Linked DNA regions of Homo sapiens: all the other regions are linked to region 4. Evidence: fine-mapped expression QTL. A gene starts in region 4. Each other region holds a variant in brackets. All regions are shown on one strand. Distances are between the middles of the regions. Region 1 overlaps WSCD1 (WSC domain containing 1). Region 2 has its middle 20 kb from the start of SCIMP. Region 3 overlaps RABEP1 (rabaptin, RAB GTPase binding effector protein 1). Region 4 holds the start of RABEP1 (rabaptin, RAB GTPase binding effector protein 1).

Evidence for each region. PIP is the estimated chance that this variant, and not a neighbour inherited with it, causes the effect.
Region 1: its variant is fine-mapped to the expression of RABEP1 in minor salivary gland (GTEx, PIP 0.97).
Region 2: its variant is fine-mapped to the expression of RABEP1 in whole blood (TOPMed, PIP above 0.99). The same link has a PIP of 0.9 or more in blood mononuclear cells.
Region 3: its variant is fine-mapped to the expression of RABEP1 in subcutaneous fat (GTEx, PIP above 0.99). The same link has a PIP of 0.9 or more in monocytes after LPS.

Annotation. Positions count from the first base shown.
Region 1 is chr17:6,080,918-6,089,047 of GRCh38, reverse strand. It overlaps WSCD1 (WSC domain containing 1), which reads right to left. Exons shown (of 9, transcript NM_015253.2): 2 at 7,963-8,130; 3 at 944-1,058. Among named protein-coding and RNA genes, the nearest start is that of WSCD1, 15 kb to the right of the region's middle. RefSeq lists an enhancer at 1,451-2,142. The variant A/G (reference allele first, on the strand shown) is at 5,018.
Region 2 is chr17:5,250,490-5,258,596 of GRCh38, reverse strand. No RefSeq gene overlaps it. Among named protein-coding and RNA genes, the nearest start is that of SCIMP, 20 kb to the right of the region's middle. RefSeq lists an enhancer at 3,574-4,079. The variant A/G (reference allele first, on the strand shown) is at 3,178.
Region 3 is chr17:5,354,010-5,362,009 of GRCh38, reverse strand. It overlaps RABEP1 (rabaptin, RAB GTPase binding effector protein 1), which reads right to left. Exons shown (of 18, transcript NM_004703.6): 8 at 7,520-7,651; 9 at 335-802. LOC105371505 (a long non-coding RNA gene) reads left to right here. Exons shown (of 2, transcript XR_934178.3): 1 at 1-325; 2 at 926-1,403. Among named protein-coding and RNA genes, the nearest start is that of NUP88, 62 kb to the left of the region's middle. RefSeq lists an enhancer at 1-128. The variant G/A (reference allele first, on the strand shown) is at 3,052.
Region 4 is chr17:5,278,035-5,286,164 of GRCh38, reverse strand. It overlaps RABEP1 (rabaptin, RAB GTPase binding effector protein 1), which reads right to left and starts at 3,881. Exons shown (of 18, transcript NM_004703.6): 1 at 3,645-3,881. The coding sequence starts at 3,678. RefSeq lists an enhancer at 1,076-1,594 and a silencer at 3,442-4,161.

The sequences.
Region 1 (8,130 bases), 800 kb before region 4:
TACTTTGGGAGGCTGAGGCGGGCAGATCATGAGGTCAGGAGATTGAGACCATCCTGGCTAACACAGTGAAACCCCATCTCTACTAAAAATACAAAAAATTAGCCGGGCGTGGTGGTGGGCGCCTGTAGTCCCAGCTACTCGGGAGGCTGAGGCAGGCGAATGGCGTGAACCCAGGAGGTGGAGCTTGCAGTGAGTGGAGATCGCGCCACTGCACTCCAGCCTGGGCAACAGAGCGAGACTCCGTCTCAAAAAAAAAAAAAAGGTGAAAAAAATCTGTGGGAGAAATAAGTGAAGAGGGAAGTCTGATTCTGTTTAACCCACCTCTCTCAGATGTGTGTGTGTGTGTGTGTGCAGCACACACAGACACACAGTCAGTTGTGAGGGCCTTGACATTAGGAACCATTTCCCTGGCACATGACAAGTGTCTGGCAACTACTGGGTGAGCTGGAAGTATCAGAAAAAGTAAACCTTGTTATAGACACAAGGTGAAAATACTTTTCCTACCAGAGCTGGAAAGATCCTCTCAGAGAAATCTCAGTTAAAGCCCTTTATCTTATTGTAAAATATATAAGTAAACTGAGGCCCAGAGAAGGAAAAGAACTCATCAAAGTCACACGCTGAGTCCCTGCTATGGCTGGACTGGAAGTCGCATCTCCCTGCACCCAGCACCAGCACCCAAGCTCCCAGCACCCAGGTCATCACCCAACTCCCAGCACCCAGGCGGTCACCCAGCTCTCAGCACCCAGGCCATCACCCAGCACCCAGCTCCCGGCACCCAGGTCATCTGCCAACAAACTTCCTTTCTTCTGGAAAACTGGGATCTGAGCAGTGAGTTCCAATTATGCTATGACAGCCAACTGGTAGCTGATATGCCTCCTCATTCTGGAACTGTCCCTGGACCTTCCTGCCTCTAGAATCAACAGTCCAGGGCCCCAGCACTCACCGCTCAGCACACGCATCCTGGCAGTGGGAGACAGTCATCTTTCTCAAGTCATAAAACACAGCTCCTTTCAGAGTCCTCTCGTGGCCATCGTCACTGAAGCATCCAATGTAGGTGCCTGCAGAAAGGGAAGCATGGCTAATACCAGAGGCCCAGGAATCATGGGCCCACCCTTAGGAAAAGCCAGGGGAACCTCTGCCTTCCTGGCCAAGGCCACTCTCAGAGAAACCCGGGAGATGAGTGCTGCAGGCTACCTCCCTCCCACTCAGTGCTGAGCAAAGTGAGCATCTGACACCTCCCACTTGTTTGTTTCCTGCCCATTTTCTCTTTTTTAATGGCCCACTGTCCACCCTGACGGCTCTGCCAGGAGCCAGGCGTCGGCCTGACCACTGCTTTCTTCCACTACCCCAACTCAGAAGTTGGGAAGGCTGGATTACCTCTCATGGACTCTACCCCTCCTCTCTAGCCCTGCCCTCCCTGGGCTCAGAGAGGCCTCTCTACCTTGGCAAATGCCCTGAGAGACAGGGTCGTTGCCTCCTTGGGGGCCAGAGAGAAGAAATCAGTTAGGGCAAGTTTGATTTTAGCAAATTTAAGGAAGATCTTTCAAACGGGGAAAGCTATTTCAAGATAAAGTCTGTCGTCCCAAGAGGGAGTAAGACCCCATCTCTGGAGTGTGTCCGCAGAGTCTGTTAAGAATGGGAGCAAGTGTCCTGTGTGGGAAACAACAGGGCCAAGTGACCGCAGAGGCCTCTCCAGGCTGGTCACCTGCACACATCCCTGGAAGGGGATACTGGGGACACTCATGCTGCAGTGAGAAGCCAGCCGTGCACGCGCCAGTGAGAGTCTGTCACAGCCCTGCCCTGCCACCCCGAGGGAGGGAGACATCTCCCAGAGATGCACAGAGAAGTTGGGAGATGGCAGTCCTGATGCAAACGCGGGTAGGCATGTAAATGTCACGCGCACCAGTGTTTTGAAGGAGCGGCATGGGAATTTGCAAACACGCCGTCACACAGTCCCCAAGCCGTGAACGCACACCCACAATAGCTGCGCCGAGATCTGGATCGGGCACCTGTGATAAACACGCTGCACGTCTCCCCAGGAAGGGCCGCGTTCCGCTCATTCATGTCACCTGGGGAGCGCACCACTGCCTCCAGAGAAATTAGGCTGTCTCTGGGAAGTAACATGCCCAGGACCTCCCAGCAGCCTGCCAGTGGCTCCCAAGCGGCTTTTTAGTGAGGAGAAAAGTCCTGATGGTCCACAGGCCTGGATGCTCCGTGAGGGCAAGGGAGACTGTCTCTGTTCCTGCCAAGAGCCTGGTCCAGGGCAGCGGCTGGGGGAGTGGGGCCACTGCTGAGTGGCCTAGGGGAGGAAGTCTGCCAACCATCCACTTCTGGGCCTGAATCGGGGAGTGACTTTTCTTTGTACTTAGCAGAGAGCCTAAATACAAAGAAGGGGGCCAGGTGCTGTGGCTCACACCTATAATGCCAGCACTTTGGGAGGCCGGGGCGGGTGGATCACTTGAGATCAGGAGTTCGAGACCAGCCTGGTCAACATGGTGAAACCCCGTCTCTACTAAAAATACAAAAAATATATACATACCAAAAATTAGCTGGATGTGGTAGCACACACCTGTAATCCCAGCTACTCCAGAGGCTGAGGCAGGAGAATCACTTGAACCTAGGAGGTGGAGGTTGCAGTGAGCTGGGATCATGCCACTGCACTCCAGCCTGGGTGACAGAGCAAGACTCTGTCTGAATATATATATATGAATGAACAATTATAGTACTATTTATTATCCATGGGGACTAGCAGTAATGCATGAAGTACATAAGTATATATATATATATATATATATATGAAGTCAGGACGGTCTTACTGACTGCACCAAGGTGCAATATCCAGGGCCCCAGGTTAAGGCAAAGCAGAGGAGAACAAGCGAGATGGCAGGAGACAGGACTCCCCACCACACCAAGACCCAAGGGACCCAGGAGACCCTCGGACCACAGAACCCCAGGGCTGAGGAGGGAACAACGGCCACCTTCTCCAGTGTTTGCCAAAGGGTCTGGTTCCCAGCCAGGCTCTGAGCCTCTTGAGGTCACCTTCATCTGGGGACGCCCATCAGCACACATGGCCACGCCCACAGGCACATGCTACTGCCCTCCACTGCCCAGACATCCAGTCCCACGTGCATCTCTCTACTTCTGTAAGTCTCAGGTCCACCGCCACCAGCACGGACCACTGCACAGAGCTTTCACCCGGGTCAGTGAGAATGGATCCTTCTCCTCTGCCTGCCTACTTAGTAAAAGAAAACTAATATTTGAGAAATTTCTGATGGGTTGCTCAGCAAAGAAGTTCCATTTCAGCTTTCAATTAAACAGCCAAAGCATAAGCTCAGGATTATTAAACATTTATCATTGTAGATGGGAAATTAACCACAAGGTTTTCAAGGTGCTTGGGCTCAAGACCTTCCCAGACTGAGACTGCACGTGGCTGTACATGCTTCCCAGGCTGTACATGCTTCTGAGGAAGTGGATGGAGACAGCCTTTGGGAATAGGCTCCACCACTATCTGGCTGTGCAAGCTGGGATGTGCAGCTGCCTCTCTCTGAGCCTCAACTTCCCCATCTATAAAATGGGGATACGGTTCCAATTCCATGAGGTAGTTGTGAAAATTCCATAAGGTAACACATGTAAAATGTCTAATACAAGGCTTGGCATGCAGTAATTACTCAGCAGCGATTGTTTTTACTGTTAATATATTGTTATTAATAATGAAAACATTTAAATTACTTTTCTTCCCAGAAACTCAAATTCTTCATCATTAAAACAGTGATAGCGGCACTTACATCATAAGGCTGTTTGAAGATTAAATTAAATGAGATAACAGATGTATGTCTATACAATACAATGCTTGGCACATAACAGATGTCCAAATAAATAACAGCCATTATTATTCTGATCCTACACTCTAACCTGGGACGTGTGATGGATGGATCAGTAAATATTAGCTGAATAATTAACACGTTAATAAAAGAGAGAAAAAAAATTGTTTCAAGCAGTCAGGCTCTGGTTCTTCTGGAAACAGGGAGTGGCCCACCTGTGACCAGCTGGCCATTTGATGGAGCTCACCGGCGTGGAGGGCGAGCCCGGGCCTGGCTGGCCCCGTCTCAGTGTGCGACGGGGATAAAAGAGGAGGCGAGCTCTTTTATCTGGACGCAGAATGAACAGCTTTTCTAACTCCCCGACAGAGGCGAGAATGTTCAGGAAAGAAAGAACTTCCGAGGGATACACTGGGACCCACTCTGAGGCGGATTTATTCCTTTCAGCTGAAATGGAGGCATTGCATTATTGTCTGTCACTCTGCATCTGTTCATTTGCACATCAAAATGGACATACCGTGAGGCTAGTAACGACGGCTTTGAAGATATTGGAATGTCTTTGGAAATTACTATCAATAAAAAACAAACTGGCTATGGAGAAGTTACTATTTTTCCCCTAGTAAACTTACAGACATTTTATTCCATTATGGATGTTGTCCAAGGTATAATGAAATGCTCAGTGATTGATGGAGCCTCCTGCAGCTTCCGCGCCTTACAGGATCCCCTTTCAGGAGGATGGCGGGCTGCCCGGGCCACAAAGAGACACCCGCTTTGTTTGAGGCCCCAGCAGCTGTCCTGAGGGCTGGGCTGCAGGCTACTCTCCACCAGTGAGGCCGGACTGGCTGTGCTTGGCCCATGGAGCCCCACGACAGGAAGGGGCCCACAGGGATTGCAGGCCAGCACCCTGCCTTCCCCCATTCTCTGATGACCATGAGAGCACAGCCTCCCCAGACTTGGTTGTTTTGCTGTTCAAAGGAGAGCAAATTCTTCCTTCGGTCCTGGCACACATTCACAATACTTGACAACCTATGGAGGGCACTGACCATTCAGAATTGCCACCATTTGGCACTGGAATCACATTAACCCTCTCTTTGCTGGATAAGGGGGAGGTCTGGGAGCCACTGGGGAGGCAGCCAGAGTGTAGATGGCACCCCAGCGGCCCAGGGCAGCAACCATTTACCAGCCAACCTGGAAGTATT[A/G]TAATTATTTTAACAACTGATAAGACCATAGTGGTATATAAATTTGGATATCAGTCCTGCTTATATCTAGCCACAATCTCTCTAGCTTTTACTAGAGCCCCTTCCATCACTTCTGTAAGTCATTAGGGGTAACTTAAAGTAAAGGGGGGCTCACTGGTTCCCTGAGACATATACACTCTGCAGTCAGGGCTGAGCCCTCCCCTCTGCTGGTCACTTCTATTTTTATTTTTATTATTATTATATATATTTTTTGAGACAGGGTCTTGCTCTGTCGCCCAGGCTGGAGTGCAGTGGCGCGATCTCGGCTCACTGCAACCTCTGCCTCCTGGGTTCAAGCGATTCTCCTGCCTCAGCCTCCCAAGTAGCTGGAATTACAGGCACGTGCCACCACGCCTGGCTAATTTTTGTATTTTTAGTAGAGACAGGGTTTCACCATGTTGGCCAGGCTGGTCTCAAACTCCTAGTCTCAGGTGATCCGCCTGCCTCGGCTGGGCGTGGTGGCTCACGCCTGTAATCCTAGCGCTTTGGGAGGCTGCTGGTCAGTTATAAAGGTCACTTCTCACTGAGTCCACAGCCCACTTCGCACGTGCCTCTAGCAGACCTCGGTCGTGCTTTGTAGAAATAATTTGGGTGCATATCTGACTCTATCACCAGACCGAGCTCCTCCAGGGCACAGTGAGGTGCACACGTGAAGAGTCATTTGGTGGCTCATCAGTAAGCGTGGAATGAAGGCAATGAAGAGAGGAACTGAGCCCACTATGCCCAAGGTCACATGCCCAATAAGTGGCAATACACAGGTCTATTTTTAAAACGTGTGCATTTTACATGGCTTCCTCTCAAGTAACGTTGACTCCTGCCGGTCAAGTATACTTTAGTCCAAAGAAGTTTCACTGATAAAACCTGCACAGAGACCCAGTCTCTTGGTGTGTTGCGGAGAGTTTGCAGAAATCATGCCTGTGTCAAATGAGCTGAAGCATCAGCTCCTCATTCCTCCCTCCCTTCTGACACACGAGCCTTGCTGAGAAATCCTACAGCAAGTGCAATGGCCTGAATGATTTCTGAAGGAACTTCCTTCCACAGCGACATGAACCCACAGCCCTCCAGTCTTTATTTGACTGAGCTACCAGTCAGTCTCCTAAAGTAAGGACAGCTTGGGCTCCGTTCTCTTCCACAGAACCTTCTCGTCATGATCAAAATAAAGCCAAACTCCTAGGCCTGGCACTCGTGGCCCTCCCTAACCCAGGCCCCAGTGCTCCTCCTGCCTCATCTCCTTTTATATTCTGCCAGGTGGTCCACTGTGCTCTGGCCACACTTATTACAGTCCAGAGAGCAGTTCCTCTTCTGACTTCGGGTGCAGGGCCCAGTGAGGTGGTGACAGGGATGCTGAGAAGCTGACTGAGCTCAGTCACCCTCCAACAACAACTTCCACGCTTACTGGGAGCTCCCCAAGCACCAGGCACATTTGCTGCACCCTGCAGAGAGAGTCTGCATAATTCAGCATAAACAGCTCCAACCCGGAGCCAGACTGTCCCCACGCTGGCATCCAGCAGTGTGACGATGGTAGACCCTGCCGTGTCCCTTCCATGTCTCCCAGGCCTGCCACTTCCAGCGGGTCCTTTGAGATGTGTATTCTGCTCTGGTACTGAGCCTCCAGCCGGATGAAGTCTGGTTGCCCATTTGTAACCTGCTTGATAACACACCCTTCACTGGCTGCCTTCCCTTCCCTGTCCCACTTCCCGCGCCCCCACTAGTGTTCCCTGGGATCACATCCCAAATATACTGGATGCACGTGAATCCTGGTTTCAGAGTTTGCTTCTAGGGAACCCACACTAAGAGAATAACCTTGGCAATTGACTCAACTTCTCCATGCCTTGGTTTCTTTACCTGTAAAACTGCGATATAATAATAATACCTGTAAACAGCAGACTTACAGGTGCATAGGAAATCCCATATGCATTAGCTGCTTTTATTAAGTCATAATAGCTGCCAGTTAGAGTGCCAAATAATATACCAGGGCCTCTGTCCTGGGAGTTCTCAGCTTCAGCATGCATCAGACTCACCTGGAGACAGCGTTAAATACAAAGCCTGCTGGCCCCTACCCCAGAGTTCCTGACTAGGCAACTCCGGGAGAATCTGAGAATTTGCACTTGTGACAAGATCCCAGGCGGAGCTGATGCTGCTGGTCAGGGACCCCACTTTGTGACCCATTCCTCTGTGTTATCACATTTGCTTGTCACAATAGCCCAGGAATGGCGTCTTTAGCTCCATTTCAGGCAGACCTGGTGACATTAAGTGACACGTCTAATTTTTTTTTTTTCTTTTTTTTGAGACAGAGTCTCCTTCCCAGGCTGGAGTGCAGTGGCCCGATCTCTGCTCACGGCAACCTCTGCTTCCCAGATTCCAGCGATTCTGGTACCTCAGCCTCTCGAGCAGCTGGGATTACAGGTATGCGCCACCACACCCGGCTAATTTTTGTATTTTTAGCAGAGATGGGCTTTCACCATGTTGGCCAGGCTGGTCTTGAACTCCTGACCTCAAGTGATCTGCCCGCCTCGGTCTCCCAAAGTGCTGGGATTACAGGCATGAGCCACTGCGCCCAACCTATTTTCATATATTCAATGAAACTTGTCCTACTAGATTCTCTGAGATTAAAAAAAAAAATTGTTGGCCAGGATTCCAGCCAATGTCTGTCTGAATCCAAAGCCGGAGCGCTAAGTGACCTGCTCACAACATCTCAGCCTTGAGCCATGTGGAACTCCAGCTGGTGAGTGAGCAAAACCCTGAAGGACTTCGCATCGCAGGCCCCTTCCTGTCCTGCAGAGCAGAAGGAAAGAACCATCTAGCGGTGAAGGCCACAGGCCTGCAGAGAGAAAGGGGACACCAAACCTGTGACCCTGAATGGGGGGTCCTGGGAACAGCTCCCCCAAATGCAGCTGAGCGCCTACCTCGGCTGTGGATGGCGGGCCTGGCAGCCTCGGGGCCCAGGGCGGGCGGTCCCTGGGAGTCACTCATGAAGTGGTGGAACCAGCGGCGACGCAACTGACGCAGCTCCGAGTTGCGGCTCCGGAGCCAGCGGGGGCCGGGCCGGGGCCGGGTCAGGGGGCTCTGCAGCA
Region 2 (8,107 bases), 28 kb after region 4:
GGTCTTGATCTCAGGTCATCCACCCGCCTCGGCCTCCCAAAGTGCTGGGATTACAGGCGTGAGCCACCGCGCCTGGCCTGGATGTGGATTTTTTTCTGATGCAATGAGAGGCCATTGGAGGCCATTAGGCAGGAAAATCAAGGATCTCATGTTCAATACCTGCTATAGGCTACATCAGAGCTTTTTCCACCTCTGACATAAGAGATAGCAGCTGCCAAGGGCCTGGGTTCTATTTCCAGAAATCCACGAAATGACCCACTAGCGTGTGATTTTGTATTAAATGTAGCAAGACTGACATACATCAAATCGGGCTGATATATATTTTGCAGTTTGGCACTGACATCCTGGTGTGTAGCTCAGATCACCTCGGGTAGGGCCAGGTGCACAGTGTCTGATGGAAGAGGGGAAGCCTGCCTGCAGGTAGGGGACACAACAGCAAGTGGGGTCATTGCCTTTACCATACTGTGTTGCATTGCAGCTTAAATGGATGCAGCTAAACAGCTTTTTTTCTTCTTTGAGACAGAGTCTTGCTCTGTTGCCCAGGCTGGAGTGCAGTGGTGCGATCTCGGCTCACCGCAAGCTCCGCCTCCCAGGTTCACGCCATTCTCCTGCCTCAGCCTCCCAAGTAGCTGGGACTACAGGCGCCCGCTACCACGCCCGGCTAAATTTCTGTATTTTTAGTGGAGACGGGGTTTCACTGTGTTAGCCAGGATGGTCTTGATCTCCCGACGTTGTGATCCGCCTGCCTCGGCCTCCCAAAGTGCTGGGATTACAGGCATGAGCCACTGCACCTGGCCTTTTTTTTTTTTTTTTCGTTTTGTTTTGTTTTGTTTTGAGACAGAATCTCGCTTTGTCACCCAGGCTGGAGTGCAGTGGCACGATCTTGGCTCACTGCAACCTCTGCCTCCTGGGTTCAAGCGATTCTCCTGCCTCAGCCTCCCGAGTAGCTGGGACTACAGGCTCATGCCACCATGCCCGGCTAATTTTTTTGTATTTTTAGTAGAGATGGGATTTCACCATGTTAGCCAGGCTGCTCTTGATCTCCTGACCTCGTGATCTGCCTGCCTCAGCCTCCCAAAGTGCTGGGATTACAGGTGTGAGCCACTGCGCCCGGCTGAGCTTTTCTGATTATATTATCGTTACCACTAACCCAACCCTCAAAAACTGGACATGGGGCTTGCAAAGATAGACAGATTGAATATAAACTAATAAAGCCAGCACAAGCCACAAAAAAGGAAATAGCAGACCTGATGCTTCTTCTCTTCATAATAGAAGTCCTTCGTTAGCCACATTATAGGTAAAAACATGATCTCATCAGATCTGCCAAAAATCTGGCAAATGAGCAAGAGGGAGTGAGAGAAATTATCAAAAAGAGTGTTTGCAATACATTTGTACATCCCTTATCACTAACAATGCCTTTCACCTTCAGTATATAGTCTGTCCTGAGAAAAATAATAATAGTCGTATGAGTAATTATAAACAAATAATTGGAATAGTTGGCAGCGTGTGCTCAAAAATGTTTTGTTGTTAGTGGTAAAATCACCTAACTCAGGAGATCATTCCAATGCCTGCAAATTTCTTAATGAATCCAGGACTATTTTTTAAAACATTTTTTATTTTTTGAGATAGGGTCTCACTCTGTTGCCCAGGCTGGAGTGCAGCAACTTGATCATAGTTCACTGCAGCCTCCAACTCCTGGGCTCAAGTGATCCTCCCACCTTAGCCTCCTGAGCAGCTGGGACTACAGGTGCATGCCACCACACTCAGCTAATTAAAAAAAAAATAGAGACAAGGTCTCAAAATCCTAGGCTCAAGCAATCCTCCTGCCTTGGCCTCCCAAAGTGCCAAAACTATTCTTGATCCCAGCACAATGTGTGACCCAGAGTAGGTCCTTAATAAATATTTGTTCAGGCCGGGAGCGGTGGCTCACACCTGTAATCCCAGCACTTTGGGAGGCCGAGGTGGGCAGATCACGTGAGGTCAAGAGTTCGAGACCAACCTGGTCAACATGGTGAAACCCCATCTCTACTAAAAATGCAAAAATTAGCTAGGCGTGGTGGCAGGCACCTGTAATCCCAGCTACTCAGAAGGCTGAGGCAGGAGAATCATTTGATCCCAGGAGGCGGGGGCTGCAGTGAGCTGAGATCACGCCATTGCACTCCAGCCTGGGTAACAGGGTGAGACTTTGTCTCAATCAATCAATCAATCAATCAATATTTGTTCGGTGAGTTAGTGAGTGAATGAAGGCATTCAAGATTAGGAACTTGCCAGTATGCCCAGCCTTGCCTCACCTCATCCCGGCCCCCAATGCCATTTCACCCTAAGTGCCCAATATCCAGACTGCTTACTGCTCCCTCAGAGTCTTCCCAGCCCATCTGTCCGACCCTGGCACACCTCTCTCAGCTTATTCCTACAAACCCTTTGGGACTTGAGTGTGAATGGAATCTTTTCTAACAAACCTTCCCTGACCCAACCTCTGCCAGATCTGGGCTGAAGACCCCTTTGGAGCCCTTTTCATATTGTTCGTAATTTTTAGTTTTATTTTTTGGGGCCCACTCCTTGAAGGCAGGATGTAGGTCTGCCACCAGAGTTTCTTTTTTTTTTTTTTTGAGACAGAGTCTGGCTCTGTCCCCCAGGCTGGGGTGCAGTGGCACAATCTCAGCTCACTGCAACCTCCACCTCCCCGGTTCAAGCGATTCCCCTGCCTCAGCCTCCTGAGTAGCTGGGATTACAGGCATGCGCCACCACACCCAGCTAATTTTTGTATTTTCAGTAGAGACGGGGTTTCACCATGTTGGTCAGTCTGGAGCCACCAGGGTTTCAATGAATATTTGCTGGATGAATAAATAAATGGAAGAAAGAATGAAACAGTTGGCTTGGGCATGGTATTCAGGCACAAGTTTACTATTATGATGTCAATCAAAGGCTCGCAGATTCCTCATTAGGTAGAATAAAGTTTACAGGAACCCATCCCTTACTGATGTTAGTCATTTTTCAAGGCTCTAAACTTTGCCTCTGGCCTTGGTTTTGGCACCCATCTTTCTCTGGACCAAGCTGTCTCCTACCACACACCCCTCTTCTCCCTTCCCCTTCTCTCTGTCATCAGATTGCAAGCTTGTACCCTGAGGGCTGTCTCAGGCAGCAAGGATCTGGATCTACAGGCTTGGTGAAGGCACA[A/G]TTCCTAGTCTCTTGCCTTGAGCACACACAGGAAGTCAGCCACCCAGCCACAGTTATATTTAGATTCCTGTCACCTGATGGGGTCATCTGTTAATCAGGGCATAGTGGTAGGTGCAGCATTTTGGGAGTAAACTGAGGTAGGACCAAGGTAGAGAGGAAGTGAGCAGAAAAGTCAGGTACTGACTCCAGGCTCTTTGGCAGGATGAATATTCATGGCTTACATTACACCTAGAGAGATAGAAGGCAGACCAAAGGAGGAACTTGACTTGAGAGAGAAAACAGTTCTTGGCTTGGGCAGGGTAACGGTGGTGCCCCTGAGAGCAGCAGGAAGAGCTGGCCCCTTGGGGCCTCTTGCAGTCCTGAAGGCCAGTTGGGTGCAGGAGCAGGAGCACGGGCCCCTTTGCTGAGTGAGCGGGGCCGAGTGAGTGGTTTTTTTCCATAGGCAGGAATACCCAGCTGCGGTCAGCAGAAAGAGCTGTGGTCACAGGACCCTGTACACAGGGTAGAAACCAGAAAGAAGCAGACATAGCAGGAATTTTTTTTCAAGCTTCCAAGAGCCTTCTCTGCCCTCGATTTGGTTTATCAAATGACTGCTTTGGGAGCTGGGGGACGGGCCCTAAATTGTCATGGATCCAGTTGCTTCTCCCTCCTTTTCTTTTTCTAACCTCGCCTTCATTTCCAAATGACCCCCTTTTATTTCTAGAATCCACCCCCACCACTATAGTAGGTACCTTGCAAGGAGCTCCTGCCCACACTCCTTTCTTTGGCATCCAATCCATTCCAGATCCTGCTGACAGTGTTGGCTTCCCACAACCCACTCCTTTCTGAAATGCTCGGGTGCTGGCCCATCACCGGGGGATCGTCTACACCCCTCCGTCTGGCTTCTGAGTTCTCCATGTTCTGACTGACACTCACCCTTCCCAACCCCAGGCTCACCTTTCTTTCTTTTTTTTTTTTTTGACAGCTTTATTGAGTTATGATTGACATGAAATAAACCGCACCCATGGCCAGGCGAGGTGGCTCGTGCCTGTAATCCCAGCACTTTGGGAGGCTGAGGCGAGTGGATCACAAGGTCAGGAGATCGAGGCCATCCTGGCTAACATGGTGAAACCCCGTCTCTACTGAAAATGCAAAAAATTAGCCGGGCGTGGTGGCATGCGTCTGTAAACCTAGCTACTCAGGAGGCTGAGGCAGGAGAATTGCTTGAACCCAGGGGGCAGAGGTTGCAGTGAGCTGAGATCGCACCATTGCACTCCAGCCTGGGTGACAGAGCGAGACTCCATCTCAAAAAAAAAAAAAAATCAACTGACTATATATGTGCAGGTCTATTGCTTGACTTTCTTTTCTGTTTCACTGATCTATTTATGTATTACCTGCAACAATAACACATTGTTTTTTTTACTGTAGCTTTATGAGAATTCTTGAATCAAGTAGTAAGTCCTCCAACTTATTCTGCTTCAAAGTTATTTTGGCTATTCTAGGTACTTTGCATTTCTAAATAAATTTTAGAATCAGCTCATTCTACCAAATAAAGCCCACCAAGGTTTTGATTGGAACTGTGTTGATTTTGTAGATCAATTTGTGGAGAATTGAAATCTTACCAATATTGAGTCTTACGATCCATGAATATGATAGAACTTTCATTTATTTTGATTTTCTTTATTTCGATTTTCTTTATTTCTTTCTTAATTTTTTTTTGACAGAGTCTTGCTCTGTCACCCAGGCTGGAGTGCAGTGGCATGATCTCAGCTCACTGCAACCTCCGCCTCCCAGGTTCAAGCAATTCTCCTGCCTCAGCCTCCCCAGTAGCTGGGATTTCAGGCACGTGCCACCATACCTAGCTAATTTTTGTATTTTTAGTAGAGACGGATTTCACCATGTTGGTCAGGCTGGTCTCGAACTCTGACCTCAAATGGTCCACCGGACTTGGCCTCCCAAAGTGCTGGAATTACAGGTGTGAACCACAGCATCCGGCCCTTTTAGTACTTTTTAAATGTTGCTTTAGCATCTTCTGCATCACATTAACTCCCAAAAAGAAGATTGCTGTCATTTTTATATTTGTTTTTTTCTCTGGCTGCTTTTATATCTTCTCTTCATTGCTGTTTGTAAGTAGCCCGATTAAGATGCACCTTGGGCTGGGCGTGGTGGCTCACGCCTGTAATCCCAGCACTTTGGGAGGCCGAGGCGGGCGGATCATGAGGTCAGGAGATCGAGACCATCCTGGTTAACACGGTGAAACCCCGTCTCTACTAAAAAAATACAAAAAAATTAGCCGGGCATTGTGGTGGGCACATGTAGTCCCAGCTACTCGGGAGGCTGAGGCAGGAGAATGGCGTGAACCCAGGAGGCGGAGCTTGCAGTGAGCCGAGATCGCGCCACCGCACTCCAGCTTGGGTGACAGAGCGAGGCTCCGTCTCAAAAAAAAAAAAAAAAAAAAAGATGCACTTTGATTAGTGTTCTTCATGATTCTTGTGCTTTGGGTTCATTGAGCTTGCTGGGTGGGTGTATTATCTACGGGTGTATCATTCTCATCAAGTTAGGAAAAATTTTTCCCTTATTTCTTTGAATATATTTTTCTGTACCTCCTCCTTTTGGAAATGGAGTCTCGGTTATTGGAAACTCCAGTTACACGTACATTAGGCTTCTGGAAGTTATCCCCCAACTCACTGTCATTTATTCTCAGCCGTTGTCTTTCTCTGTATTTCACTTCAGATTACTTTCTTTTCCTTTTTCTTTTTTCTTTCTCTCTTTTTTTTTTTTTGAGAAGGAATTTCACTCTTGTTGCCCAGGCTGGAGTGCAGTGGCGTGATCTCGGCTCACCGCAACCTCCACCTCCCAGGTTCAAGTGATTCTCCTGCCTCAGCCTCCTGAGTAACTGGGATTACAGGCATGCACCACCACGCCCGGCTAATTTTGTATTTTTAGTAAAGACTGGGTTTCTCTATGTTGGCCAGGCTGGTCTCGAACTCCTGACCTCAGGTGATCCGCCTTCCTCGGCCTCCCAAAGTGCTGGGATTACAGGTGTGAGCCACCACGGCCCGCCCGGATAATTTCTATTACTGTGTCAAATTCATTAATCTGTGGTCTGCAGTGTGTAATCTGCTGCAAATTCCATTCAGTGTACTTTTCATCTCTAGAAGAGATAGATGATAGATACACTCATATATACATACATAGTCTATCAGTATCTATATATCTTCTATGTCTCTACATAACATGCTCTTGTCCACTAATCTCATCATCTCTGTTATTCCTGGGTCTGTTGCAATTGATTTTTCTCTTCATCATGAAAGTATTTTTCAGATTTATTGAATACTTGGTAATTTTTCACTGAGGGATGTTATTTTAGATAAAATCAAAGCCTCTCTGAGGAGGGCAACATTAGGTTGGAAAATAAGAATAGTTGACCCTTTAACAACACAGGGGTTAGGGGTGCCAACCCCTGGTGCAGTTGACATCCCACATGTTATTGGTAAGGCTTCTGGTCAATAGTAGGCTTAACTGCTAATAGCCTGCTGTTGACCAGAAGCCTTACCAATAACATTAACAATCGATTAACACATTTTGTATGTTATATGTATTATATACTGTATTCTTACAGTAAAGTAAGATAGAGAAAAGAAAATGTTATTAAGAAAATCATAGGCCAGGTGCAGTGGCTCACACCTCTAATCCCAGCACTTTGGGAGGCTGAGGCAGGCAGATTACTTGAGGCCAGGAATTCGAGACCACCTGACCAACATGGCAAAACTCCATCTCTACCAAAAATACAAAAATTAGTCGGACATGGTGGTGGGCTCCTGTAATCCAAGCTATTTGGGAGGCAGAGGCAGGAGAATTGCTTGAACCTGGGAGGCAGAGGTTGCAGTGGGCAGAGATTGCACCACTGTACTCCAGCCTGAGCGACACAGCAAGATTCCGTCTCAAAAAAAAAAAAAAAAAAAAGGCCAGGTGCAATGGCTCATCATACCTGTAATCCTAGCACTTAGCACTTTAGGAGGCCGATGTGGGTGGATCACCTGAGGTCGGGAGTTCGAGACCAGCCTGACCAACATGGAGAAACCCCATCTCTACTAAAAATACAAAATTAGCCGGGTGCGGTGGCGCATGCCTGTAATCCCAGCTACTCAGGAGGCTGAGGCAGGAGAATCACTTGAACCCGGGAGGCAGAGGTTACAGTCAGCTGAGATCACGCCATTGCACTCCAGCCTGAGGCAACAAGAGCGAAACTCTCTCAAAAAAAAAAAAAGAAAGAAAGAAAAAGAAAAAAGAAAATCATAAAGAAGACAAATTATATTTACTATTCATGACATGAATATTTAAGAATATTTGTTTTATTTTTTTACATTTAAATTTTAACTAAAATCTGGAATTAGTTTTGATGTGTGAAATATGATTCCAATTTTACCAACGAATTTTTTTCCCCTTCCGCCAGCACTTGGCAACCATCATTCTACTTTCTCTTTGTATGAATTTGCCAATTTTAGGTACCTCAATATAAGTGGAATCATACAATTTTTTTTTTTTAAAGACAGAATCTCGCTCTGTCACCCAGGTTGGAGTGTAGTGGCACGATCTCAGCTCACTGCAACTTCTGCCTCCCGGGTTCAAGTGATTCTCCTGCCTCAGACTCCTGAGTAGCTGGGATTACAGGCATGCACCACCATGCCCAGCTAATTTTTGTATTTTTAGTAGAGACGGGGTTTCACCATGTTGACCAGGCTGGTCTCAAACTCCTGACCTCAAGTGATCTGCCTGCTTCGGCCTCCCAGAGTGCTGGGATTACAGGCGTGAGCCACCGCGCTCAGGCACAATGTTTATTTTTTATGTCTGGCTTGCTTCACTTTAGTATTGCATCCTCCAGATTCATTCCTGGTGTCGCATGTACCAGAACTTCCTCTCTTATTAAGGCTGAATAATATTCCACTGT
Region 3 (8,000 bases), 76 kb before region 4:
ATAGAAAACTGCAAAGCAAACCAAATCCAGGTTGCTCTAACTTAAATTCCGCAATGCTAGTCAGGCAGATTGCTCCAACCTGAGAGCTGTGAGTTCAGGTGGGGAGGTTCACATTCACTGTGATTAACTAGCTAGCTCCTTTCTCTGTCACAATTACCTGGAATACCCAAGGCAGACTATGACAAGGGTCAGGTGACACACGTTAATATCCACTTGCTGGCAACATGTGCCTGCACTGACTCCAGGAACCGTCTGTTGAATGAACGCTAAATCCCAGAGCTTCCCAGTGTGCCTCAGCGTGAGCAAGAGGAAAAACGTGAGAAAGGTAACTCACCTCTTTCTGCAAGAGATTCCATTCTGTTTCACTAACTAAACGATAACCACTAGGGGACACATAGGCACTCTCCATGCCCTGGGTAACGCTGGAGAGGAGGGACGCTGTCTCTTCTTGTTCTGGTGTCATCGCCTTGATTGCTCTTTCCTGATCTTTGGTTAACATAAACCCACTTGGCATCTGGAGTGACCCAAGGGATGCAGTATCAAAGTTCTCAGACACTGAATCTGCTCCTACCAGTGGTCCAAAATCTGACTCGTCCAGGTTTCCAGCAGATTTTGCTTTGTAGTTATAGCCTAAAGCTTTGGATTGCAATGAGCCCGAGGTTCCCAAGCTGTCTGTAGACTGTGCTCTCCTGAGTCCATCTTTAAACATGTCATTGTCCGATTTACTGAAAGGATCTCCAGATGGCAACAGCAAGCCTGCATCTAAGGAATGAACTGAGCCACGGGTGCTGTCTAAATGCTCCTGAAATGTGAAAATACATATGGCCAAGTTAGACAATTCTCTGCGTTTTTAAAGACAAAAACTATAATAAATGTATTCCGCCACTCATTACACATGATAATCATTAATGTGCTACCTTCACAGACTCATTGAACAAACACTAAGTGTCATTTCTACATGCTGGACACAAAACCAGGCCCTCAGGATACAACTGTGAGCAAGATATAATCCCTGACCTCGAGATACATACGGCTTCAAAAAAAAAAAAGATAAGTAAGCAGACTGTTATAATACTGTGATAAAAGGATGGGCTGGAGCTATGTGCTGAATGCTCTGGTAGCTCAAAGAGCTCCCAAATACGAACAGTTGAGGAACGTCACCTGCAATTCAGTGTGGCGTGTGTCAAGCGCGAGGTGCCTATCATGAATCCAAGCAGAGATATTCCCTTGACAGAGGGACACAGAAGTCTTTCGATAGAGACTTGAGAGTAACTATCGTATAATGATAATTAAAGTCACAGCAGCAAATCAGAACACGTAGGATGAGTGTGTAGGCAAAGAGGGCCAAGGGCAGAACCCTGAGAAAGATTAACATCTTGGGGATGAGCAAAGGAGAAGCCAGAGTAGTGGAAAGGAAATGACGAGAACGTAGTATTTTCTTTTTTTCTGAGACGGAGTCTCGCTCTGTCGCCCAGGCTGGAGTGCAGTGGCGCGATCTCCGCTCACTGCAAGCTCCGCCTCCCGGGCTCACGCCATTCTCCTGCCTCAGCCTCCCAAGTAGCTGGGACTACAGGTGCCCGCCACCTCGCCCGGCTAATGTTTTCTATTTTTAGTAGAGATGGGGTTTCACCATGTTGGCCAGGATGGTCTCGCTCTCCTGACCTCGTGATCCCCCGACCTCAGCCTCCCAAAGTGCTGGGATTACAGGCGTGAGCCACCGCACCCGGCCCAAGAATGTGGTATTTTCCAGCAAGGTGTAATCAACATGTTCAATGTTGTATACTATGCGAAAGCAGATGCAAAAAGTCACATATTATGTAATTCCATCTATTTAAAATGTCCAGAACAAGTAAATCCATAGAGCCATAAAGCAAGTTAGTGGTTACTAGAGGCTAGGGCAAAGGGAAAATGGCGAGTGACTCTAATGGGTTATGAGGTCTCCTTTGGGAGTGATAAAAATGTTTTCAAACTAAAAACATTTGTGTATATATGCAATGCCACTGAATTGTACACTTTAAATTTTATGTTACATGAATTTTATCTCAATTTTTAAACAACGTGGTACAGCACATTCCTGAAGGCAAAAAGCAAACCAGTGCCATTACATGAAGCAGTTGCATAGTTAGTGGGAAATAAGAAAAATGATTTAAAGAAAAATGTAACAAGTTTTCCTTCCAACTAAATTTATTCCATTTAAATGACAATGTTTTAAGATAATATCCTTTCTACGTTTTGTTGTTAAACGCCCTGTTTTAAATGAACCAGAGGAGACTGTGGAATACAGTTGTTGTTACTGGCAAGCTCATGTAACCTATTTTTTTTAATGTTTTAAAAATATTCTTGGTGTAATAAAAAGGTGACAAATTTTGAGTTAATGCCTCCATTTCTTTCCTTTTAAAGATTGTTACTCATCTGAAACTGCAATGGCTAAGAACACAAATCTCGTATATATTAAGCTTACTATGGCAAAGATCCCAAGTAAGTATCCTAATAAAAACTGGGATAAGCCATTCTGTTAGTTTACAAATAACCCTAACACCCACTGCTATGTATCATATACAGTGCTGCTGTGATACTGAAGAGGGAAGGGGCTAGGGATAGAACAGTTGTGAGGGCCATTTGAAAAACATCAGACTGGCTGGGCGCAGTGGCTCACACCCGTAATCCCAGCACTTTGGGAGGCCGAGGCGGGCAGATCACAAGGTCAGGAGATCAAGACCATTCTGGCTAGCATGGTGAAACCCCGTCTCTATTAAAAATTACAAAAAATTAGCCAGGCGTGGTGGCAGGTGCCTGTAGTCCCAGCTACTTGGGAGGCTGAGGAAGGAGAATGGCGTGAACCCGGGAGGCGGAGCTTGCAGTGAGCCGAGATCACACCACTGCACTCCAGCCTGGGCAACAGAGCGAGACTCCGTCTCAAAAAAAAAAAAAGAAAACATCAGACTACAGGCCTGGCGCAGTAGCTCACGCCTGTAAATCCAACACTTTGGGAGGCTGAGGTGGGAGGATAGGTTGAGCCCAGGAGTACAAGACCAGCCTGGGCAACATAGA[G/A]AGAACTCCTTTCTACAAAAAAATTTAAAAATTAGCCAGGCATGGTACCACACGCCTGTAGTCTCAGCTACTCAGGAGGCTGAGGCAGGAGGATTGCTTGAGCCCAGGAGATCGGGGCTGTAGTGAGCTGTGATGGTGCCACTGTACTCTAGCCAGCCTGGGTGGCAAGAACGAGACCCTGTCTCAAAAAACACAAAACAAAAGACCCCACATCAGACTACTACATTGGCAATAATATCTTAAAAATGTTTACATCCTTGAATTCAGCAGTTCTTTTTTTTTTTTTCCTGGAGACAGTCTCGCTCTGTCACTCAGGCTGGAGTGCAGTGGCGCATTCTCAGCCCATTGCAGCCTCCGTCTCCTGAGCTCGAGGGATTCTCATGCCTCAGCCACAGTGAGTAGCTGGGACGACAGGCGCCAGACACCATGCACGACTAATTTTTGTATTTTTAGTAGGGATGAGTTCCGCCATGTTGGCCAGGCTGGTCTCAAACTCCTGGCCTCGAATGATCCGCCTGTCTCAGCCTCCAAAAGTGCTGCGATTACACTTGTGAGCCACCATGCCCGGCCAGGCAGTTCTTTTCCTAAGAACTCACACTAAAAAATAAAATAAAATAAAATCAGATGCATCCATAATGATTTTTGTACAAGGAAAAATTATATATAACATTATGACATTACTTATAACGAAAAATTGTATAGTAGTAAAAAATGGAACCAACTTGACTATCAGTGTGTTAATCACGCTTTTCATTTTCTGTATTTCATAATGTTTTGATTTACTGGAGGCCTTGCTGGCTGTGAAGAAACTGCTTCCCAGGACTAGCTAATTTCTAGAGATAATAAACAACTCACCTAACTGTAAACATGCCTTTCACACACAAACCATTCAATCCCAAACCCATATCCCAACCACCTCCCTTACCTAAGTCACACACCGAGCCAGTATTTCCCCTGCCCTAAATGAACCCAGGGCCAGTTCCAGACAGCTAAGAACAGACCCTATACCCCAAAGGCTGCTGGAATTAATTACCAGCCAGTCCTAAACCCTCTGCTCTGCTCCACTTTGCTTTTCCCAAAGAAACCACAATAATAGCTATGGCCCATGCTTTTCTCTCGCTCCTGCTCCTGCCTCCTGACCACCTCTGGTGCTTCCCTGCTGTGGCCATGCAAGGTGTGCTGTACCTCTGCTTCCAGGAGAACTGTGAGTAACACAAAACTTTTTTCAGGGGCATTGAACTCCCTATGTCATCACTCAGTCACCATTATGAATTAAAAACCAGGCAGAAGCTGGAAACGGTGGCTCACACCTGTAATCCCAGCACTTTGGGAGGCCGAGGTGGGCAAATCACTTGAGGCCAGGAGTTCGAGACCAGCCTAGCCAACATAGTGAAGACTTGTCTGTACTAAAAATACAAAAATAGCTGGGCGTGGTGGTGTGCACCTGTAGTCCCAGCTACTCGGGAGGCTGAGGCACGAGAATCGCTTGAACCCAAGAGGTGGAGGCTGCAGTGAGCCAAGATCACGCCATAGCACTCCAGCAAGGGTGAGACAGCAAGACTGTCTCAAAAAAACAAAAAAAGTCACAAATCAATTAGTAGGGAATTGGTTAAAAGAATTATGGTACATTGACACGCTGAAATTCTGTCAGCCACTAAATATCATTTCAGGGAAAAACATTTAATGATGTGCCAAAACCTTAGAGTAGATTTAAGTTGGGGAAAAAATTTGCACAAAACACTATGTAGTTATAATCTAGATTATGTTTTAAAAGTGCAAATAGAGCCAGGCATGGTGGCTCAAGCCTGCAATCCCAGCACTTTGGGAGGCTGAGGTGGGTGGATCACGAGATCAGGAGTTCAAGACCAGCCTGGCCAACATGGTGAAACCCCATCTCTACTAAAAATACAAAAATTAGCCTGGCGTGGTGGCTCATGCCTGTAATCCCAGCTACTCAGGAGGCTGAGGCAGGAGAATCGCTTGAACCTGGGAGGCAGAGGTTGCAATGAGCTGAGATCACGCCACTGCACTCCAGCCTGGGTGAAAGTGAGACCCTGTCTCAAATTTAAAAAAAAAAGTGCAAATAGAAACACATGTGTTCCAGCCGGGGCAACATGTTGAAACACCGTCTCTACAAAAAATTAGCTGGGCACGATGGCGGATGCCTGTAGTCTCAGCTACTCAGGAGGATGAGGCAGAAGGACCGCTTGAGCCCGGGAGGTCAAGGCTGCAGTGAGCCAAGATTGCACCACTGCACTCCAGCCTGGGTGAGAGTGAGACCCTGTCTCAAATTAAAAAAAAAAAAAAAAGAAATATGTTAACATATGTTAACATATATATTATCTCTGGAAAAGAAAATAAGGAAAGGAAGAAAGAGATACATACCAAAATATTAGTTGTTACCTCTGGGTAGGATGATCTATCAGTTATTTTTATTTTGAATGGTGTTTTCTATACTTCCCAAATTTTCCATAATGAACATTTTGTAGAGAGAAAAGCATATTATAAGCATCAGGTTAAAGAAAATGTGAGGTCTACAAATTTCAAATATCTTTAGCCATAAATCCAACTCTCCAAAGCATCTCAGATTAACTTTTGTGTGTGTGAGACAGGATCTCACTGTCATCCAGGCTGGAGTGCAGTAGCAAAATCTCAGCTCATTGCAACCTCCACCTCCCGGGTTCAAACAATTCTCATGCCTCAGTCACCTGAGTAGCTGGGATTACAGGGATCCACCACCTCGCCCAGCTAATTTGTGTATTTTTAGTAGAGATAGGGTTTCACACCATGTTAGCTAGGCTTCAGATTAACTCTAAACCAAGAGTTGTGTCATTATTCTCAATACAAAACAATTATATTCAACATTCAAACTGCAAAACACCAGCTCTGAAAGTCTACGGATCTGTTAAGAGAGAATCAAAAATAAAAATACTTCTCTGTAAATCACAACAAATGTCCCTTTCCTGTTTTCCCACTTTTCAAACATTCCTGGATAGATTACTGCATGATGAAAACACTATGTAATCATTGGCTGTACCCAAAACTTGAGACATTCTCTTGGGAGTCTAAATATTTTTAAAATGCACAGCAGAATTAGACCAAGTGGTTCCCAGTCTATGTCCCAGAACAAAGAATGAACAAAACAACTTCAATATACAGCACTTTTTAGTGTCTACTAAAATTTTTTTTAAGTTTTTCTTAAACATCAAACAATCTGTAAGCATGGGCATATATATAACCACCAGGATGTAGATTATGTATGGCTCAAAGTAAATCTGCAAAGTAAATAGAAACATGATACCCCTGAAAGTAAAGACAAGACCTGTATCCAATTTAAGTGCAATTCATTCACCAGGCCAGGAAAGGAGGTGCCGCAGGGAAGTGAGTGTGATTCTAAGCCGCAGGGACAGGCCACATGAGCATGAACAGTAAGTGCACAGGTCTGGCTACAGAGAGGTGGAGAGCAGTAAGTGAGGCTGGAAGGGCCATTCAACTGTGAATGCCCTTGTATGCCATGCTAGGGATCTTGGGGGATCTTAGTTTTTATTCTAAAGGCAATAAGAGAAGCAGTTCCTTCACTGATAACAAGATGAGCTTTGAAAGATGAGTAGAAGGATTTCAATACTCAGAAAGGCAATGGGAGGAAAGTACTCCAAATGAAGGAACCAACAGACCAAGTGGGAATACAGCCCAAGATGATGACCAACATGGCTAAAATGTAATCCAGATGATGAAGGGCCTTAATTGTCAGAGTGAGGAATGTGTGCTTAATTATATAGGTAATGGGAGTCAATGGTAGTTTTTGAGTAGGGGAGTGGCCTGACTGCAGCTGCACTTAAGAAAATGAATTTGACAGTAATGCTGAGGACGCAGTGGAATGGGACAGGTTGAGGCAGGAAACCCAATGAGGAGGCCCTTGCCACACTGTAGGTGAGAGGTGACAAGGCCACAGAACACCTAACACTTCCAGGTCTCTCTACTCTACCCATTCCTAGTACCTGAAACATTTTACCCTGTGGTGTTATCTGCCAAACCTCACCCATGGCCGTCAGGGATGAAAACCTAATACTGGTTAATACTCTCATATATGCTACAGGGAGTTAAGCATTTCAGCGCTTTAGATAATCTCTTTTTAAACAAAAAAGACAAGTATTAGCAACATGTACTATTCACATCAAAAAAGATTTTGCAGACATTATTTAAAGGTTTATTCTAATGTATTAAATTTTGGAAATACTGGAAAAAAGAACATCTATTTCAGACAGCGAATGAAGCTGCAACATGTTTCAAATAGTGCTACCTATAATGCCATAAAAACAACTGAAAATACTGTCATTTTTATCTAACTTTCACCTCGTAGCTATGCACTTCTCACTTCTCATATGAACAATGTAATTAACTGATGTATGAGTAAGCTAAAATTGTTGACATTGTGTATTTAATGACTTTAATTATAGACTCACTATACCTCTTCATTTGATAACTGGGCTGAAGATTCTTCTTGAGTTAAAGCACACACTACTGGTATTTTTATTTCTTCCTCAACATCTGCTTTTTTGTGATCCTTTCTCTTATTGAGTCTTTGTTGTTCATCATCCTCCTAAAAGGAAGAAAAAAACATATATATGACCCAAGTAACCTACTTAATAAGTGACACAGTTCTTTAACCATTCAAAACAAATAAAGAACAGAGCGTTATGATAAGAGAAAACTGGATACTTACGCTTCTTTGTTTTGTAATCCCATCTAAGGGCCTCTGGCCATTACAAAATATTTTAATATTATAAGCACAAACTAAGAACACTGGTATAAAGAAGAAATCAGGAAGCAGCTTCCAAGAAAAGTATACTGTATAAAGTAAGGCAAAATAAAAGAAAGCAAAACCGCCTCTTCAAATGATCCTTGAAAAAAAAAATTTACACAGAACATTCCTTGTGATTACTGTAGAA
Region 4 (8,130 bases):
CATCATCCAGAGCTTGTAGGATTACAGGGGAAATCCACCTGCCATATATCGTTGGCAAGTATGTAAATTGATGCCTTGGAGAGTAAGCTAGCAACAGGTATTAAAATTTAAACCACTCGGAACTCATGCCCTTTATTTAATTCACTAGTCTTACAGAAGTAAAAGAGTACCTTAAAAAATATGCACAAGGACATCCATTACAACACTGCTTATAAAATAATTAAAATTTGAAAACAATCTACTTGCCCCACAATAGGGAAATAGGCCATAAATCATGCCTGGTACATGCATATGATAAGATCGTCTTTAAGAAGAATGAAGAAGGCCTACAACACTGACCTGGAAGTAGTCCATGATCTAGTACATAAGCCAGATGGCATGGATTTGAATCCTGCTCCCCCACTTAATAGCTGTATAACACAGGCACGTTTCTTTAACTTCTGTGTGCTTCAGTTTCCTCATCAAGAAAATAGAAGCAGTAATATTCAATAGTACCATTGCTATGAAGATTTCCTAAGATAATGCCTATAGTGTTTGCAGAACATTACATGGCCATATAACCATGAGTATATAATATGATAGCTAACATTTATTAAGTGAGATAGGGAAGTTGCAGACTTATGTATGTAAAGCATGTCCTTCAGGGGTAAAAGGTAGCATGTCTGTGTAACTAACAGGAAACAATCAGGAATCCAGCCTGGCCAACATGGCAAGAATAAAAAATAATGAAGTAGGCTGGGTGCAGTTGCTCATGCCTGTAATCCCAACACTGAGAGGCCAAGATGGGAGAATCACTTGAGCCCAGGGGTTCAAGACCAGACTGGGCAACACAATGAGACCCTCTCTACAAAAGAAAAAAAAAAAAAAGAAAAAAAGTGAAGTAAAACCAGAGCAAATGCTTCAAAGATATAGTTGAACTTAGATTAAAAGAAATACTAAAATTAGAAAATTTTCATTTTTAAATTCTCAAGGGAAAACAGATCAACTGAAATTTCTTTAACTATTAAAATTACCTGTATTCCAAATAAGTAAACTAAGATGCAGTATCAAAAACCCAAAACTTTTTTTAACTTACAAAATAATTACAATGAATAAAATGATTACATTTCATCCCTTCGATTTACACACAAATCGATTTTCCTAATCTACCATATGGCCATGAAAAACAGACAATATTTTTTTTTTTTTAAAAAGTCATCAAAGACAATCGCTTCTGAAACAGGATAAAACAAGATAAAGTCAAAGACTAAGCAGTTAGTTATCTTTCACCACCAGTTTGACACAAAAGAATTCTGGCGATTTTTTTTTTTTTTAATCAGCAGGACTAGGAAATTCAAACGTGCCTAAAGCTAAAATGGTCTACATGAGTTCAGCTAAAGACACAAATTAAATCCCCAAAAGCCGGACTCACGGGCTCACACCTACAATCCTAGCACTTTGGGAAGTGTAGGCAGGTGGATCCCTTGAGTTCAGGAGTTTGGGACCAGCCTAGGCAACATGGCAAAACGCCGTATCTACAAAAATACAAAAATTAGCTGGGAATAGTGGCATGCACCTGTAGTCACAGCTACTTGGGAGGCTGAGGTAGCAGGATTGCTTTGACCCCAGGAGGTCGAGGCTGCAGTGAGCCAAGATCGCGCCACTGCTCTCCAGCCTGGGCAACAGAGTGAGATACTGTCTCAAAGAAAAAAAAAAAAATTAAAATCCCCAAGATGAACTTCTAAGGCACTGACACAAGGCACTCAAACGTACCAAATTATCTCTCTCCTACTGTAAAAAGTAGCCATGGCTACCTACATTAATTTAAAATAAAAATTGCAATCTATGCAAACTAAATCTCATCCTAGAGTCACAAGATTTGAGAAATAGGAAAGAAACCTGAACTAAAATACCAAGAATACAAGATTTCCTAAAGCTAGTTTTCCCTAGCCTCGTTCAAGTGCTTAGTCACTTCTGCCTATTTACAAGGAAGACCATTTCATATCTTCAAAGAGGCAGGGAATTTTGATTCCAGACGGTCATGTCACCTGAGCTGCCCTAGACGTTTCTTTCCATGCAACTCAAGAGAAGGCAGCAGCCAGCTATGCATACCTACCACTCCTGTTCAGAACCACAAGCTCTCTGTATCTTGCCTCTGTGTGCAGTAACAAAGTGGGATTGTGGAAGAACAAAGTTTTCTTGCCTGACACCAAATGCAAAAGGTGATCATTAAAATGCAGCCTGAAGACATCCCAGTTTCCTCTCTCTGACAGCCCACCAAAAATGCTTCCCTTCCCTTCTCCTGGAACAGAAACAGCAAAGCAGGTTCTTATAAAAGTCTAAATGCTTACTGGACATCTCCCCTTAGGCAAGCAACAACACCCAAAACTACAGGCTAACAGGCTCTGAAGCACATTTCCCAGAGAGCAGCCAGAACCTTAAAATCTGATAACATGGTTTCAAGTTCCCCAAAGGCAAAAATAAAAAGTAAGGGTTTCACGAAAGGTTATTTTGAGACAACCCCAAGGAAAGCCAAGTTTTAAAGTACCTACTCCGTACCAAGCCCCTTTTCCCAACATTCTACTCTACTCACACTTAAAGATGCTAAGCACACACGCTGATTATAGAAATACACCAGAAAGTACTTTCACAACTAGATACAGTGGGACCTTGGAAAAGCCCAAGCACACTATTTCCAAACATCTATTCTAGGTGGTAAAACCTGGAACCATGTAGTCAATCTGTGAAGCACAGCTTAGTCCAATTTCCCAGAAGGTCACGAAGGGCTCTGACAACCAACTTTGATTATTTAGGATGGGGCCCTTTTTTCCTTCCAAGAATATAAATGACACATTTCTTCGACTTCACTTTTTTTTTTTTAGTTCCACAAGCAAATATCTTCAAGTAGTGCAAGTAGGCCTCAGCATTCTCAAACACTATTCTCATTATTCCTAATACCTCCATAATACTATTATTGTATATACACATTCGTGTTGCTATTTTTATAGATAAAATATAAAGGCATGAATTAACCTCTTGGTTAATTCGTGGGTGAGAATACTGAGGCTCAACGAGGCTAAGAAATGAGCCCAGAGCTTGCTGGTTAAGAATACAGGTCCTCTAGACTCCCAGGCCCCAACACTTAACCATTAAGCCACACTGCCATTCAGGGAATGCTACTAAATCCAGTTACTGTACACAACTACTTTCAGGTCACATAACTGGGTGCAAAGAGTTCTATAGCAAGGATTGGGGCGGCAGGGAGGGTACACTACCTAAGCTAAGATTTTTTTTCTTTAACGAATATAGCACATGTTCCCGATTTCCATCCTCCCCCACGGGCAGAACCCACGTGCCGGTCCCCCGCTACCCAGAACCGCTCCCTCCCCACACTACCCCACGCTACCCAGCAGCCTCCCCACGCCCTTCCCTCTGCCCTCCCGCAAGCGCTGCACCCGCGCCTCCCGCCCCCTCCCCAGCGACGGCAGCCGGGGCGCCCGCGCCGCCCTCGCGCGCCGCAGCCCGCGCGCCCCCGCCTCCGCCCGGCGGGGTCACCCCCGGGGCCTGCGCGCGCCCTTGCCGCCGCCTGCCCGCCCCGAAATCCTCCCGCGACGCCGACGCCGGGCAGGCCGCGCCCGCCGCGCCTGCCATGGTGGGCGCCTCACCGTCAGGCTGGGAAGCCGGGCCCGGCTGCGCCATGACCAGGCGGCCGGCCTCGGGGAGCGGGGATGGGCGGGGAAGCGGCGTCCTGGGCTCCCGCGGGCTCAGCTGGCGGAGGAGGCGTCAACCGAGCCGCCGCCGCCGCCGCCCAGAGAGAAACCGCTAAGGCTGGATCCGCCGGCGCCGCCACAGCCGCGGGCAGAGACGGACCCGACCGCCGACCTCCGCCTCCTCATCCTGACAGCGGGAAATAAGCAGTGCGCAGGCGCAGGGGGATGGGGCGGCACGTGACGTTGGCCCGAGGGGAGGGGCGGGGCCTCGGGAGCGCGGAGGGAGCGCGGAGGGAGCGCGGAGGGAGCGCGGAGGGAGCGCGGAGGGAGCGCGGAGGGAGCGCGGAGGGAGCGCGGAGGGAGCGCGGAGGGAGCGCGGCGGGAGGGGAGGGTTTCGGCGGAGCTGGGCGCCTGACCCAGCGGCGCGGGGAGGCTGAGTGCCGAGCGGAGCTGGAGAAGAGGGGCTGCAGCAGAGGCCTGGCCTCTCGAAGGTGCCGGTCCCGGTTCTCCACCCCAGCACAGTGAGGGGAAAAAAAAAAATGAGTAAGAGAGGAGGACCGATGGCGGGGTGCAGTTCCAGCCTCTACCTCTTCTAGCTTTGCGACCTTGGGAGAGTCACTTCACCTCTTGGAATTTTTATCAATATAATGGCTAAGAAAAGTTTAAACGAGGTAATAAAGTATGAAGAACTGTTTCCGACAGTACTGGGCCTGGACCCCAGGTCTTCTGGTGCAGAGGCCAGTATACTATCCATTCAGCAAATACGTTTGGGTTTTCAGTCGTGATAGATGCTGGAGATACAGCCAGGTACAGACCCTGCACTCATGGCAGGAAAGGAGAAATCATATACACAAAGTGTGGCCCTTATACTTGGGCCCCTGGGCCCTATACTTTAGGAACTCCCCTCTAATCACCACTCCCCGTCTGATTTCGACACCTGGAGTGCCCCATGCCAAGGAGGTAGTTTAAAAAGCTTTTTTTTTTTTTTTGGAGATAGAGTCTCACTCTGACACCCAGGCTGGAGTGCCATGGTGCGATCTCGGCTCACTGCAACCTCTGCCTCCCGGGTTCAAGCAATTCTCCTGCCTCAGCCTCCCGACTAGCTGGGACAACAGGCGCACGCCACCACACCCGGCTAATTTTTGTATTTTTAGTAGAGACGGGGTTTCACTATGTTGGTCAGGCTGGTCTCAAACCCTTGACCTCGTGATCCGCCTGCCTCAGCCTCCCAAAGTGCTGGGATTACAGGCGTGAGCCACCGCGCCCGGCCTAAAAAGCTATTTTGAAATCAGAGAGGAGCATCAGGAATTATGTACATTTTAAGACCCAGCAATCCCACCCCAGGATGAGGGAGTCCACAGGGTTTGGCACTTCAGGACCAAGTTCTGAATACTTGTGGCCCCAGAATTCCCTTTCCAGATGGCTGAAGCTGTGGTCTCTTTCCCAGATCCATTCTCTCTATGGCAGAGTCTAGACATCCCTAAAAGAAGCTAAAGTGAAAGCATAAAGAATGAGTTCATGTCCTTTGCAGGGACATGCATGAAGCTGGAAACCATCATTCTCAGCAAACTAACACAGGAAAAGAAAACCAAACACCTCATGTTCTCACTCATAAGTGGGAATTGAATAATGAGAACACATGGACACAGGGAGGGGAACATCACACACCGGGGCCTGTGGGGGGTGGGGGGAAGGGGAGGGAGAGCATTAGGACAAATACCTAATGCATGCGGGGCTTAAAACCTAGATGACGGGTTGATAGATGCAGCAAACCACCATGGCACATGTATACCTATGTAACAAACCTGCACGTTTAGCACATGTATCCAAGAATTTAAAGTATAATAAAAAAATAATAATAGGCCGGGCACAGTGGCTCACGCCTGTAATCCCAGCACTTTGGGAGACTGAGGCAGGTGGATCACGAGGTCAGGAGTTCAAGATCAGCCTCTCCAAGATGGTGAAACCCCATCTCTACTAAAAATACAAAAAATTAGTCGGGTGTGGTGGCAGGCGCCTGTACTCCCAGCTACTCGGGAGGCTGAGGCAGAGAATTGCTTGAACCCAGAAGGCGGAGGTTGCAGTGAGCCAAGATCGCACCACTGCCAGCCTGGGCGACAGATCGAGACTCCATCTCAAATAATAATAATAATAATCAGAAAATCCACTAATTAGAATCAGTTTCTACTTTCTTTAAATCATTTGTTTTAAATAAGGTATACTTTTATTAAAATGATTATTTCTCACTGAAAAAAAGGGAGGCTAAAGGGCAGCTTTGTTTTATTTTAAGGGGGTGACACGACACTTGGGTGTTTGAGCTCCTATGTCCACAGATCCCTCATGGTGCAGGACAGAGGTGAGAAAAGAAGGCAAGTGAGCCAAGAGACAATAGTTGGGCCAGGGCCTGTGCTGCTTTCGCCACCTCATTCATGGGCATAACTCCCAGGAGCCCAGGAATTCTAAATTTAAACCTGGTCTTCCAGGTCTTAAACAGGTAGATTTGTCCAAGTAGAAGGATAGACTGTATTAAGGTTAGCGGTTAATTGGAGTAGTTTGTAATTTTATTTTATTTTATTATTTATTTAATTTTTGGAGACGGAGTCTCTCACTCTATTGCCCAGGCTGGAGGGCAGTGGCACCATCTCAGCTCACTGCAACCTCCACCTCCCGGATTCCAGTGATTCTCCTGCCTCAGCCTCCTGAGTAGCTAGGATTATAGGCGTGTGTCACCACGCCCAGTTAACTCTTGTAATTTTAGTAGAGACAGGGTTTCACCATGTTAGCCCGGCTGGTCTTGAACTCCTGACCTCAAGTGATCTACCCACCTCGGCCTCCCAAAGTGCTGGGATTACAGGTGTGAGCCACCACGTCCAAACTGGTTTGTAATTTTAAATAATTTAGGTATCTATTTGTACTTTTGCCCCAGGTCCTGCCATCGTTAGAGGAGAGCCAAAATACAGACTCGAGTTTTTTGAGCAGTTAATGTCTCCCAAATGGCTGGTGTGCATTTGAGAGAGCAAGCAGGGTCTCCCCAACACCCTGCCCAACCCCCCATAAATGATTTTCCTGGATGAGCAAATCCATGCTTACCAGGAAGACCTTTGGCCAGGATAGGGCAGCCCAGTGCATCCTCTGTATTGTTGTGATGACTAACACGAGGCATAAGCCATAAAGATAGCAGATGCGGCCAGGTGTGGTGGCTCACGCCTGTAATCCCAGCACTTTGGGAGGCCGAGGCGGGCAGATCATTTGAGGTCAGAAGTTCAAGACCAGCCTGACCAACATGGTGAAACCCTGTCTCTACTAAAATACAAAAATTAGCCAGGCGTGGTGTTGGGCACTTACAATCGGGAGGCTGAGGCAGAATTGCTTGAACCCAGGAGGTCCAGAGGTTGCAGTGAGCCAAAATTGCACCACTGCACTCCAGCCTGGGCGACAGAGCAAGACTCCCTCTCAAAAAAAAGAAATAAATAAAAATAAAATAGAAGGGGCTCCTTCCAGTGAGAGAGTGGCAAATTTGTTGCCATTGATAATGAGGCTTGAAGCCAGGCCCTCAAGTCAAGGTCCCTCAGAAATGGTCAGGCATATGATTTGGACACCTAGGGCTCTCCATGTGAGGGAAGTAGTTAAAAAGCCATTTTGAAATCAGATAGGAGCATCAAGAATATTGAACATTTTCGTATTTTTAGGTAAACCTTAAGACCCAGCAGTTCCACCCCTAGGAATATATTTTAGGAAAACAAATGTATGCTCAAAGTCTTTACTAAGTATAAAAGATGTGATTCTTATGTTCTGAAGGAAATTGGGAATAAGACATAAACACATGAAATAATTAGTTACCAATGACATTGCCCATGTGCCCCAGGAGACACACGAATATTCACAGTGGCATAGTTCATAATACGATAAATAAAGGACTCATATGTTCATCAACAGTGGACTAGATTTTTAAAAAGTTTTAACATACAGGGCATCATGGCGGGTGCCTGTAGTCCCAGCTACTGGAGAGGCTGAGGCAGGAGAATGGCGTGAACCCAGGAGGCGGAGCTTGCAGTAAGCCAAGATCACACCATTGCACTCCAGCCTGGGCGACAGAGCGAGACTCTGCCTCAAAAAAAAAAAAGTTTTAACATACAATGGAATATTCTACAGCAATGAAAATGAACAAACTGGCCAGGTGCGGTGGCTCACGCCTGTAATCCCAGCACTTTGGGAGACCGAGGCGGGCGGATCACGAGGTCAGGAGATGGAGACCATCCTGGCTAACACGGTGAAGCACCGTCTCTACTAAAAATACAGAAAATTAGCCAGGCGTGGTGGCGAGTGCCTGTAGTCGCACCTACTTGGGAGGCTGAGGCAGGAGAACGGCGTGAACCCAGGAGGTGGAGCTTGCAGTAAGCGGAGATCGCGCCACTGCACTCCAGCCCGGGCAACAGAGCGA